Homo sapiens: one gene and its partners. The protein of the gene in region 2 interacts with the protein of the main gene of each other region in a pairwise test. Each region holds a gene or a part of one and is shown on either strand. Other genes may lie near its edges. The genes, in order: PRPF39, QKI and CALD1.

The links.
Region 1: the proteins of QKI (region 2) and PRPF39 interact in a two-hybrid assay, tested with the Homo sapiens proteins (one large-scale study listed by BioGRID).
Region 3: the proteins of QKI (region 2) and CALD1 interact in a two-hybrid assay, tested with the Homo sapiens proteins (one large-scale study listed by BioGRID).

Annotation. Positions count from the first base shown.
Region 1 is NC_000014.9:45,104,516-45,108,173, forward strand, and holds part of PRPF39 (pre-mRNA-processing factor 39), read left to right. Parts: intron 1-2,935; coding exon 2,936-3,101; intron 3,102-3,658. UniProt on the Homo sapiens protein: Involved in pre-mRNA splicing.
Region 2 is NC_000006.12:163,575,139-163,578,796, forward strand, and holds the end of QKI (KH domain-containing RNA-binding protein QKI), read left to right. Parts: 3' UTR 1-3,454; downstream 3,455-3,658. UniProt on the Homo sapiens protein: RNA reader protein, which recognizes and binds specific RNAs, thereby regulating RNA metabolic processes, such as pre-mRNA splicing, circular RNA (circRNA) formation, mRNA export, mRNA stability and/or translation.
Region 3 is NC_000007.14:134,943,563-134,947,220, reverse strand, and holds part of CALD1 (caldesmon), read right to left. Parts: intron 1-3,658. UniProt on the Homo sapiens protein: Actin- and myosin-binding protein implicated in the regulation of actomyosin interactions in smooth muscle and nonmuscle cells (could act as a bridge between myosin and actin filaments).

The DNA of each region.
Region 1 (3,658 bases), on a different chromosome or scaffold from region 2:
GTAGGAATGAAGGCCCAAAGAAGCCATGTGTAAATAGCGTTGCCTGTGAGTTGGTCAGAAGGATAGAGGAGGAGGCGTGTGTTAAAAAAGATATTCTAAGTGGTATACAGTAATAATGGAAATATTTTTATTGTGCTTGTGCATTAGGCTTGTACCATTGGATGTACCCTGCACATTATCTCTGAGATAATGTCTAATTTAAATCCTTCTTTAGCATGAGGACTTTGTGATCTGGTCTAACATCCAGGTCCAATCCCTGGTGGTTCCTGAGCTCTAGACACACCTAAGTCTGATAACTTCCCAAAGGGCAGTGTTGTTTTATATCTTTATGACTGTAATACCTTTTCCTCTTTCCACTTGTCTAGTGGACTTATATTCCCTGAGACCACACAGTTTTGTGTCTTCTCTGTGAAATTTTCTCTGGTTCTCCTATACTGAGATACCTAGTCTGTTATTTGTGCCATGACTTTACCTACATTTATTTACATTTATATTAGCACCAGTAACACTGCTTTGAATTTATGTCTCTTATATCCTCAACATGCCTGTCAGTTTCTGAGGCTTAATTCTTTGTATCTCTAATATTTAGGAATAGAGCTCAATATATATTAGGCAGTCAGCCAGTCTTTACTGAATAAATGTTAGCTTTATAATACAAAAAACTGCTGAAAAAATACTGCTTAATATTATGCACATTTTGTCACTGTTTTAAAGAAGTTGTTACATGATGTAGCAATAAGTCATTTTAGATTTATGTACTGTATGTAGTTATTTTGAAATTTTACCTTAAGTTTTTAATTCATTTGTTGACCATTCTGAGTTTTAATATTCATCTGTAATTAAATCTGTTTTTTCATACTACATATTTGAGAGTTACTTCCTTATTTTTAATTTTTTAACATAAGGCAATCTTTGTTAATTTTTTTCCACCTGGTGCTGAAATGGGCCGTTAGCCTCTGTATCCATTGACTTTGCAAAATTTAAATTAGATTCCAATGTTATTTATATACTTTTTTTTTTTTTTTTTTTGAGGTGAAATCTCGCTCTGTTGCCCAGGCTGGATTGCAGTGGTGCAGTCTTGGCTCACTGCAGCCTCCACCTCCCAGGTTCAAGTGATTCTCCTGCCTCAGCCTCCCGAGTAGCTGGGATTACAGGTGCCCGCCCCGACACGGAGCTAATTTTTGTATTTTTGGTACAGATGGGTTTCAGCGTGTTTGCCAGGCTGGTCTCAAACTCCTGACCTCAGGTGATCCGCCCACCTCAGCCTCCCAAAGTGCTGGGATTACAGGCGTCAGCAGGCGCCTGACCTGTTTGCTTACTTTTTAGTAACATTTCTGATAGTAGTATAGAGGTGGGAATGGGAGTTGTGAGACTAGAGGCTGCAAGGTCATTTTATGTTTATCCAGCTTAAAAGTCCCGAGGTGATGAACATGTATTTAAAAGGTACAGTCAGTAGGACCTGGTATCTAATGTAAATGAAAAGCTAGGTGGAAGAGATTGAGAGATGTAGTGGTTGACAGTACCATTAATCAATATTAGAAATGCTGAGGGTGGCGGGGCACGGTGGCTCACACCTGTAATCCCAGCACTTTGGGAGGCTGAGGCGGGTGGATCACCTGAGGTCAGGAGTTCGAGACCAGGCTGCCAACAAGGTGAAACCCCGTCTCTACTAAAATTAGAAAAATTAGCTGGGCGTGGTGGTGCGCACCTGTAATCCCAGCTACTTGGGAGGCTGAGGCAGGAGAATTGCTTGAACCCGGGAGGTGGAGCTTGCAGTGAGCCAAGATAGAACGATTGCACTCTAGCCTGGGCAACAGAGCAGGACTCCATCTCACACAAGAAAATAAAGAAAGAAATACTGAGGGTATTCATTTTCAGATGAAGATGCCATACTTATTTTAAAATATTTCATATTTGAGGTTCCAAAGGTATATTCAAATTGTGATAGTGTAGATATTTTAGCTCCTCAACCTGGTATTTTTGATTACAATTTGTATGTATACAAATTATTGCATGTTTTTATAAAATAGTGAAATGATATTTTTTTCAAAAATCTTTTTATAGATTAGCTTAAAACTAATCCACATTTCTTTGTGCAGAGTATTGGCAGTTGTATATGCTAATGTGATTAGGAGAAAGGTTTGGACTTGTGTTGTAGTTTTGAGAGTCATCATGGTATACTTATTTCAAGCTGTATGAATGAGATTGGCCAGAAGTATGTATTAATAAAAATAGATGAGAACCAAATGGAGAGTGGAATACTTGGGTATAGTAGCATTTAGGGCAGGTAAGAAGGGGAATAAGACATAGAGCAGCAGTCAGAGGCTTGGAGGACCATACTACAAAACAAGTGTCCATTTAATTTTATATATGAGGTAATTGATAATCTTAATTGGGCAGTTTCATTGGATTTTTGCGTACTCACATGTGGATGAGGAGTATTTGGGAGGTGGGAAGGAAATGCTATATTTGTTGGTTATTTACAAGTGATCATTTAGAATTTAAATATGGATTACAGTATTTAATTTTACTGTAACTTTTATGTCTTTGTAGTAAAATAGATTCTATGACACACGAATAGGTATTATCATCTTATTTTACAATTGAGGAAACTAAGATTTAGAGAAAAGAAAACCTTCCCTAGTCAGATAACCAGTAACAGACAGAACTGAGGTTTGAATTTATGCCCGTCCATGCCTTCTCCATTCCACTGTAAAGGTAGGAAGAAATTGAAGATGTCTATAGACTGTTTTATCATATGGTAGTGTTTTATCATATATGGTAGGATTTTACTATAGAAAAGAAGGAGAAAAGGTATGATATTTTGGTTTCTTTTTTAAATCAAATCCTTTGAAAGAGTAGTATATAGTAGGAATCTCAATATGAGATCTAAAATTATGATTCAAATACATATATTTTTATTGTCTTCCTTTAGATTTAAAGAACATGTACAGAATAATTTGCCTAGAGATCTTTTAACTGGTGAACAGTTTATTCAGTTGCGAAGGGAATTAGCTTCTGTAAATGGTCATAGTGGTGATGATGGTCCTCCTGGTGATGATCTACCATCGGGAATTGAAGACATAACCGATCCTGCAAAGGTAACCAGTCTTATTCTAAAGTTCGTCAGTGGCCAGGTATGGTGGCTTATGCCTGTAATCGCAGCACTTTGGGAGGCCAAGGTAGGCGGGTCACCTGAGGTCCGGAGTTTGAGACCCATGTAGGCAACATGGTGAAACCCTGTCTATACTAAACATACAAAAATTAGCCAGGTGTGGTGGCACATGACTGTAGTCCCATCTACTTGGGAGGCTGAGGTGGGAAGATTGCTTGAACCTGGAAGGCGGAGGTTGCAGTGAGCTAAGATGGCACCACTGCACTCCAGCCTGGGCCAAAGAGCAAGACTCCATCTCGGGGGGAAAAAAAGGTCTTTAGTGCAGAAGAAACTGGACCTGTTATCCCTTGACTCCATGAGTGGCACAGTGATCACTTATATAACTGGCCATTTACCCAGTGACTTGTAGCTTGTTTGAAGTTAATTTCTGATTAAGGCAAGTGGGGATTCAGTAGCTTGTATGTATAGATTTAAGGTAGAGAATCTATTTTACTACAAGACACCCCAAAAAAAACTTAGCTTAGAAGGAATATTTTGCCTAGG
Region 2 (3,658 bases):
TGCCATAACAGTTCATGTAGTAGTCTGTGAAAATTCGAAGCTGTCTGTCAAGCTGCTAATATACAAGTTGTCATGGTACCATGTAACTTAAATTGATGAATTTCTATGCAATTTACTATTCTCTGAAGCCTATGAATGCAGCCTCATCTCATTTTCAGTTAAGGGTACTTTATGTATAATTATGTCATTGCTGCCTTTTATGTAGGAAATGTAAAAAAGTTTTAAAAGGCGAAAATAACATTACAGATTTCATTTTTATACAGGTTACAATATTAAACATGAAACTACCAAATTCCAAGAATAGTAAAATTCTAGAGTCAGTTGATTGATTGAAACTATTTGACAAAACAGTTGAAAGCTGAGCTTTCAGTCAAGAAGTTGGTGAAATTAATGTCCTTAAACTTTTCCTTTAGGCAAAATGTCAGGGAAAACTTAACATGAAAGTAGTTACTCCCATACGCACCAGTGCAGTAGCTCCAGGTGTAAGAGGTCACGAAGGCACCCTGCCCATAAAACCAGGATGTGCATACGTACACACAATCGGTGTCTGGTTATGGTTTTCTAAACACTACATAAGGATCTGAATTTTTTAGTGTGCCAAAAGCAAACGATAGGTTTAAATGAAATTGCTCACTACCAAATCAAGACTCTTCATATATATACGTGTGTGTATATATATATGTCATAACACTTTCACGTGTGACAGCCTAAGGTTTCTTTAGTTTTAGGATGGGGTGGGGTGGGAGTGGTTTTGCATGTTTGACCAGGATGTGATGCCTGTCTTTATTCCTTGATAAGAAGTAGCTGTTACAGCATTTCAAGCAAATTATTTTAGGTAGAATAGAACTTACTGCCAAATGATTATTTATTTAGCAAAAATTATTCTCCAACTTTTCGAATTCACAATTTTTCTAAGTGCATAGAGTAGTTTTTTACATTGTCACGAATTCCTTAATACCTTTATTTAAAATGGAAAAAATATGGACAATATTTTAGAAATATGTGCTACACATCTAATTTTATCTGTAGTTTAAGTGATCTAAATTGAGATGCCTTTGATATGAAGAGATTTACCAACATTATATGCACTCGTGCCTTCAATGTGGAATCAAACTGGTTAACCTCAGCACAGTCCTCTCGTTTCTGTGTTTCTGCTGCACTAATTGCCAGGGGGTGGGGGAGAAGGCGAATGAATTAATTCATAGTAGAAGGAGGCGATAGGTGCAGCAAAGGGCAGCCACAGTGTTGATTCCACATTATAATGTTGTTGCCTCTTCTTGGCAAAAGACACCACATTGTGGGAAGATCTCAGCTTCCAGGGTAAAAGTTAATTTATAACTTAAAAGTGCTATTAAGTTTTTATTACCAAATATATCTTTTATGGTTTATATTGTAGTGGTATGTATGAAACATTTAAAATTTTACTGTGGAAATTGTGTATATATATATATATAGTCGAAATAGGTGTTCACAGGTCACATGTGAACGGAGAACTGCATGACCGTACATGAAATGCAATAAACCAACTGGAAAAAGTGCATGTGCTTCATCCTCTCAAGCCAACTGCAGCTGGAAAGTGCTGCTTATCCTCCACCCCCAGAAAATGCATGTATCAATATGAGAATAAAGAACGCACACTTTCAATTTTATTGAGGCTTTCAACACTATTTAAAAGAAAATGTAAGAATTTGACATTCTGGAGTTATTATAACATTAGAAAATGAGCATAACATTCACTCTGATTTTAGCCATTAAGGGAGATTAGTAAACAGACTGCTACAGTGTTCCATAGTTGGACTGTGCATCCAAAACATTTTTTTATCTTTAATAAATGGTACAGTTTTTATGTAGTTTTCGAATGTAAGAAGAAAGGAATGCTGACCAAAACTTGATTTCATCAGCTTCATGAAAAGGACTAGTGTCATTAACCTGTTGAACAGAATTGGTTTATTAAAAAAATCATTTCCAGTAGTGTGAAACCTTTACGAGTCTTTAACATCTAAATGTTATGACTCCTTGTACCTTAAGTTTTCCAGTCTTTCTTATTTATATCATCTCCAAGTACCTCTGGCTCCTTTCCTCTTGCTCACCGGAACCTTAGTTTTCCTCAACAGAATGCTTTGTTAAAGTAGCCCACAGTTGCAGGATCCATAGCACCGTCGTGCAGACTAGCAGCCCAAAGGTGTGTTTGGTTTGGCTTATACGGTGTTTTGCTTTTTAAACTACTTGCCATAATTTAAAAGTGGCAACACTAGACTTAAAAAAAAAAAAGTCTGATTGCCCATATTAGATTTTTTTTTTAATTCTTCACAAAATCTGCTCTTCCTGAAAGATCAAAGTGTCTAGAAAGCCCAAACATGTATTCTTAACATAGTAGGCACCAGCTGAAACTGAGTAATTAAACGGTCCCCTGAAGCCAAGTATTCCCTGGTTAGTCGCCACCCCACCACTCCTTCCTGTCTCTAGTGTCACACTTGGGCTGTTGATTTTCTTACTCTTCTCTTGCTTTAATCCTTCCCCCCGGCTCTCTGGCTCCTGTGGATATCTGTGCTTGTTTCCTGGTCCAGGATGGTGATCTGACTTTCAAACCAGCTTCTCAAAAGGGGTGACATAAAATCAGTTTTGATGTTTTTCCTCCTGAAAAATCAGATGAATATTTTAGTCACTGTTACTCATGCACATTGTGTTCTTATGTTTACAGAAGTGCTTAAGTGAATGGAAGCACTAGACATTTGGATTTCCTTCCTAACGTAATTTTTAATGATTACCCCTTTTATACAGTAATTTGTGGTCTTTAGAAAGCAGTTAAACTAATTGACCATCTAATAGTTGTACTATACATATGTCTAAAATAATAGTCATGGTAAGTTTGGCATCATATCTTCCCCAAAAAATGTTTATTAAAATTAGATTATTCCAGTTTAATGCTATTTTGTGAACTGTATACCCTCTGAAAGCGCTTATTTTTACATGCTACACAACAGTTCCAATTTTAAGGAGTGTCTCCTAAAATTGGGATGAAAATCTACTGTAGTCTGTTTTAAAGTATGCTATACTATGTTCATTGGTTACTTAACTGGATATTAATATAAAGGTTATTACAAGAAAAATGATGAAGAGCAAAAGGAGAAGAAAATATTTGCAAGTGAATCCACAATTCTTGCAGAACTATTTGAGTTGATACTAAAGATTTTATGTTCACTCCTTTACCTTAGAACTGTCAAGCTTGGGAATGAGGAAAGTGCCTTGGCTGTGCTTGAAACCTGAATTTTAGTGCTTCCCTTATTACATTCATTGTTTTCAATGATTGATTTATAAAATTAAGACATACTGGTAGTACAAGTTGAAAGTTGGTTTGAATACATTTTAATTAAATGATAATATGTTAATATGCTTTTGTTCATTGCTTTCTCACTGAGGTAAAACAGCATTAAAAAGTTGTCCAGAATTTAAACTGACTCTAGATTTCTAGATTCCTAGGTGGCGGGAAAATGTAAAACTTTAAAGCTCATGAGCGGAACGCAATGCAAGTCCTGAAACTAAGAGTTAAATGTGAGTCTCAGGGAAAAAAGCTAGATTAGCAAATCAAACATACATATGCCTCATCCAGAACATCATTCAGGCATCAGTTCGGGGGCTACTAGCAGTAAAGTTGGTT
Region 3 (3,658 bases), on a different chromosome or scaffold from region 2:
AAAAAATCAACAAGAGAACTACCACGTGATCCAGCAATCCCACTTCTGATACACTTCTAAAAGAATGGAAAGCAAGGTCTTGAAGAGACATTTGTATACCCGTGTTCATAGCAGCATTATTTACAAGGACCAAGAGATGGACGCAACCCAAGTGTCCATCATAGCAGGAATGGATAAATAAAAGGTGGTCTAGCCATACCATGGAATATTATTCAGCCTTAAAAAGGAAGGAGAGGCCGGGTGCAGTGGCTCACGCCTGTAATCCTAGCACTTTGGGAGGCCGAGGCGGGCGGATTGCCTGAGCTCAGGAGTTTAAGACAGCCTGGGCAACACAGTGAAACCCTGTCTCTACTAAAATACAAAAAAAAAAAAATTAGCCGGGCGTGGCGGCGTGTGCCTGTGGTCCCAGCTACTCTGGAGGCTGAGGCAGGAGAATTGCTTGAGCCCAGGAGGCAGGGGTTGCAGTGAGCCGAGATTGTGCCACTGCACTCCAGCCTGGGCAACAAAGCGAGACTCTGTCTGTAAGAAAAAAAGAGAAAAAAAAAAAAAAGGAAGGAGATCTTGTTACCTGTTACAACATGGATAAACCTTGAAGATACTATGCTAAGTGAAATAAGCCAATCACGGAAATCATACAAATATTGTGTGATTCCACTTATATGAGGGATCTAAAGTAGTCAAATTCATAGAGACAGAAATAGAACTGTAGTTACCAGAGGCAGAGGGTGGGCGGTAGCAGGAAATAAAGAGTTGCTGTTTAATGGGTGTAGTCTTTCAGTCTTGCAAGATGAAAAGAGTTTTGGAGATCTGTTGCACAACAATATGAATATGCCTCACACTACTTAACTGTACTTTTAAAAATGCTTAAGATGGTAAATTTTAGGTGATGTTTGTTTTTACCACAATTTTTAAGAAGATACATGCTACAACATGGAAAAATGGGTAAATACTATTTATTCTATTTACCTCAGTGGGTTGCATGGGCTTATGTATTATATCAGTATGATATCATACTGATATCATACTGATATACTATAATTTCTATATCATCTACAGTATAAATATTAGTTGTTATTAGAAAGGGAGGCATGTAGTCCAAAAGGTTACTTGTGAATGAGTTCAAAAGTCTTGTAGTGGCCTTACTAGTCCTTTCCCGTAAGTTACTGGTTAACTTGGGTCTGCCTGGAGTAATGGATCAGGAGGGAAGACAGAAAGGTTCAGGCGCTGGGAATGGGAAAAAGTGGCTGTAACTAAGGGTAGGCATTGAAGTAAATCCATCTGTCCACAACTGTGCCTTGAGCTTGACTCTAGCAGCTGATCTCTGGCAGACGAAATTACCCATTGCCTCTTGATTAAGAGCTAAACACAGTGATTTATGTCTATTCTTACAGAGCTGCTCCAGGAAAGTCCTTAATGACTGCATTAACCTATGGCTTCAATTTGTGAATTTTCTATGCTCTTTGACCCCAATACAACTGGAATACTCCTTATACAGACTTAAAATTATGAAATTAGCTTGGTATGATGTGGTTAAGGTTATTACTTACATGTCATTCTTTATGCTCTCTAAACCCTTTTCATATCCACTACTTCATTTAACAGTCACAATAACTGGGAAGATGTCAGGTTAGGTTTATTATCCCCATCTTACAAACAAGGAAACCACAGGTAAGACAGAGAATAATATACTCAAACTTTTGGAAGCTAGAAAGCAGTCGAGCCATGATCAGATTCTAATGCTTATCTATTAGTTGTACTCTTCTTGTAACTATAATTATACCTGAAATTAAATACGTTTTGTTATGAAACAATGAATAAACTGAAATAGAACATGTTATTCCATCTCTCCACCTCTTACCTCAAACCTTCAGGATAGAGTCTGAGAGAAGCGTTTCCTACCTCTGTCTCTAGAGTTTCTACAGTCTAGGTCTAGCTACCTTCCGTGCCTGAGATGAAGCAGAAGCTTCATCAGGTAGAACAGCTTATAAAACAGGAAGAAATGGGTACGTTTTTATGTAAGTAAGAACTAAAATTGAAATTATGTTGAATTTTCTTTTGTGATTAAGGAGGATACACAGGGATTTCATTGCAGAATTGGGAACATATTAAGACTTCAGACAGAATGCTATCCCAAGAGTCCTTATGGTAAAATTTTATTTTGGAACTGGTATTTTTAGTATTTTACACAACTATAAAAAGATGAAGACATATCATTAGCACCTACTGTGACCCCTGAGTTTCTTTAATAAATTTACTGTATGATACAGTTAGAACACTGATAATTTTAAAACATGTCGATACTCAAAGTAGAACTTCAGTAGAATGCAGAGTTTTCACTAACACAGAGTTCACCTAAGTTGGATTTGCCTGGGACTTCACTAAGCAGAATTTAGTGGCTTAATTTAGGCTTGAAGCCCTTGTTATAAGTAGTCTTTAAGAGACAGAGATACAGCTTTGCCATTTAAATACTTATTAGCAAGTAGTAAGGTCATTCTTAACTAGATGTCAACGTAGATATCCTATTCCTGACACTTTTGTCTAAGGAACAAAGGAATTATCACACCCTAACATCATTTACTACATGTAAAGAATGGTACAGTGTTTCTAGCTGTGAAACAAGAGGAAGAATAAAACAAGAAATGGGCTCAAGAAATACACTGTGCAATATTGATTTTATAATATATATATGTATATTATATATCATGCTTTTTAAACACTGAAGTAGTTCTGAATATCCTGTGTCCTCCAGAACAATAATTTTCAAGCTGCAGACCAGAAAATCAATTTAGTAGATTGTAATCAACATTTAAAAAAAAAAAAAACAGAAAATATCAGAGTGCACTGCATAGAGCAAAACAAAGTACCATTTCTTGACACACTTGTTTCAGTTATAAAAATATATACAGGTGTGTACTGGGTCATTATGTAAAATTTATTTCTTACTAAGGGCTTAGGTTAAAAAATTTAGAACTATTGGTCTAGGCTCATGCCAGTTACAGGTAAACTTTTATTTTGAACTCAAACAAGGTTAAAGGGTCCCTCAAAACCTTGCTGTCAAAGGCTCTTTCAGGGTCTTCTAGGTTCACAGGCCTGTGACTCCTCTCTCAGTCAATTTAGGGTCTTTCCTTCCAAAAATGAGTTTGCTCTCTCTTTGTGTTCATCATATTACTGTACAGGAACTGGACCGGCAAAACACATGCCTATAGAAACATCTATGGATTCCACTAGGTGTCACTCAGTCTTCATTTTGGACAATCAAAATGTCCGTCATTAGGGACTGGCTAAATAAGTCCTAATACATCCATCCAGTAGAATCTAATATCATTAATTATAGGCTTATATTTATTGGCATAGAAAGCAAGCTATGACACATTCTTATGCACAGTGCAAGAATCAATGTAAAATTATAAGTATACTCACACACGTATATACTACATATAAATATACACACGTGTGTGCATTTATCTTGAATATTATATACATAGATAAATATCTGGAAAAAGTGTTACTGCTAGTTATCTTTGGGTGGTGGGTGCTTATTTTTATTCTTCTATTTTCTGAGCGTTTTTATAATGAGTATTTTTTTCTATAATCGGAAAAAATCTTTTAATTTCTACCTTCAAAAATAAAAAATCAAAAAACCATTTTGCACTTTCTA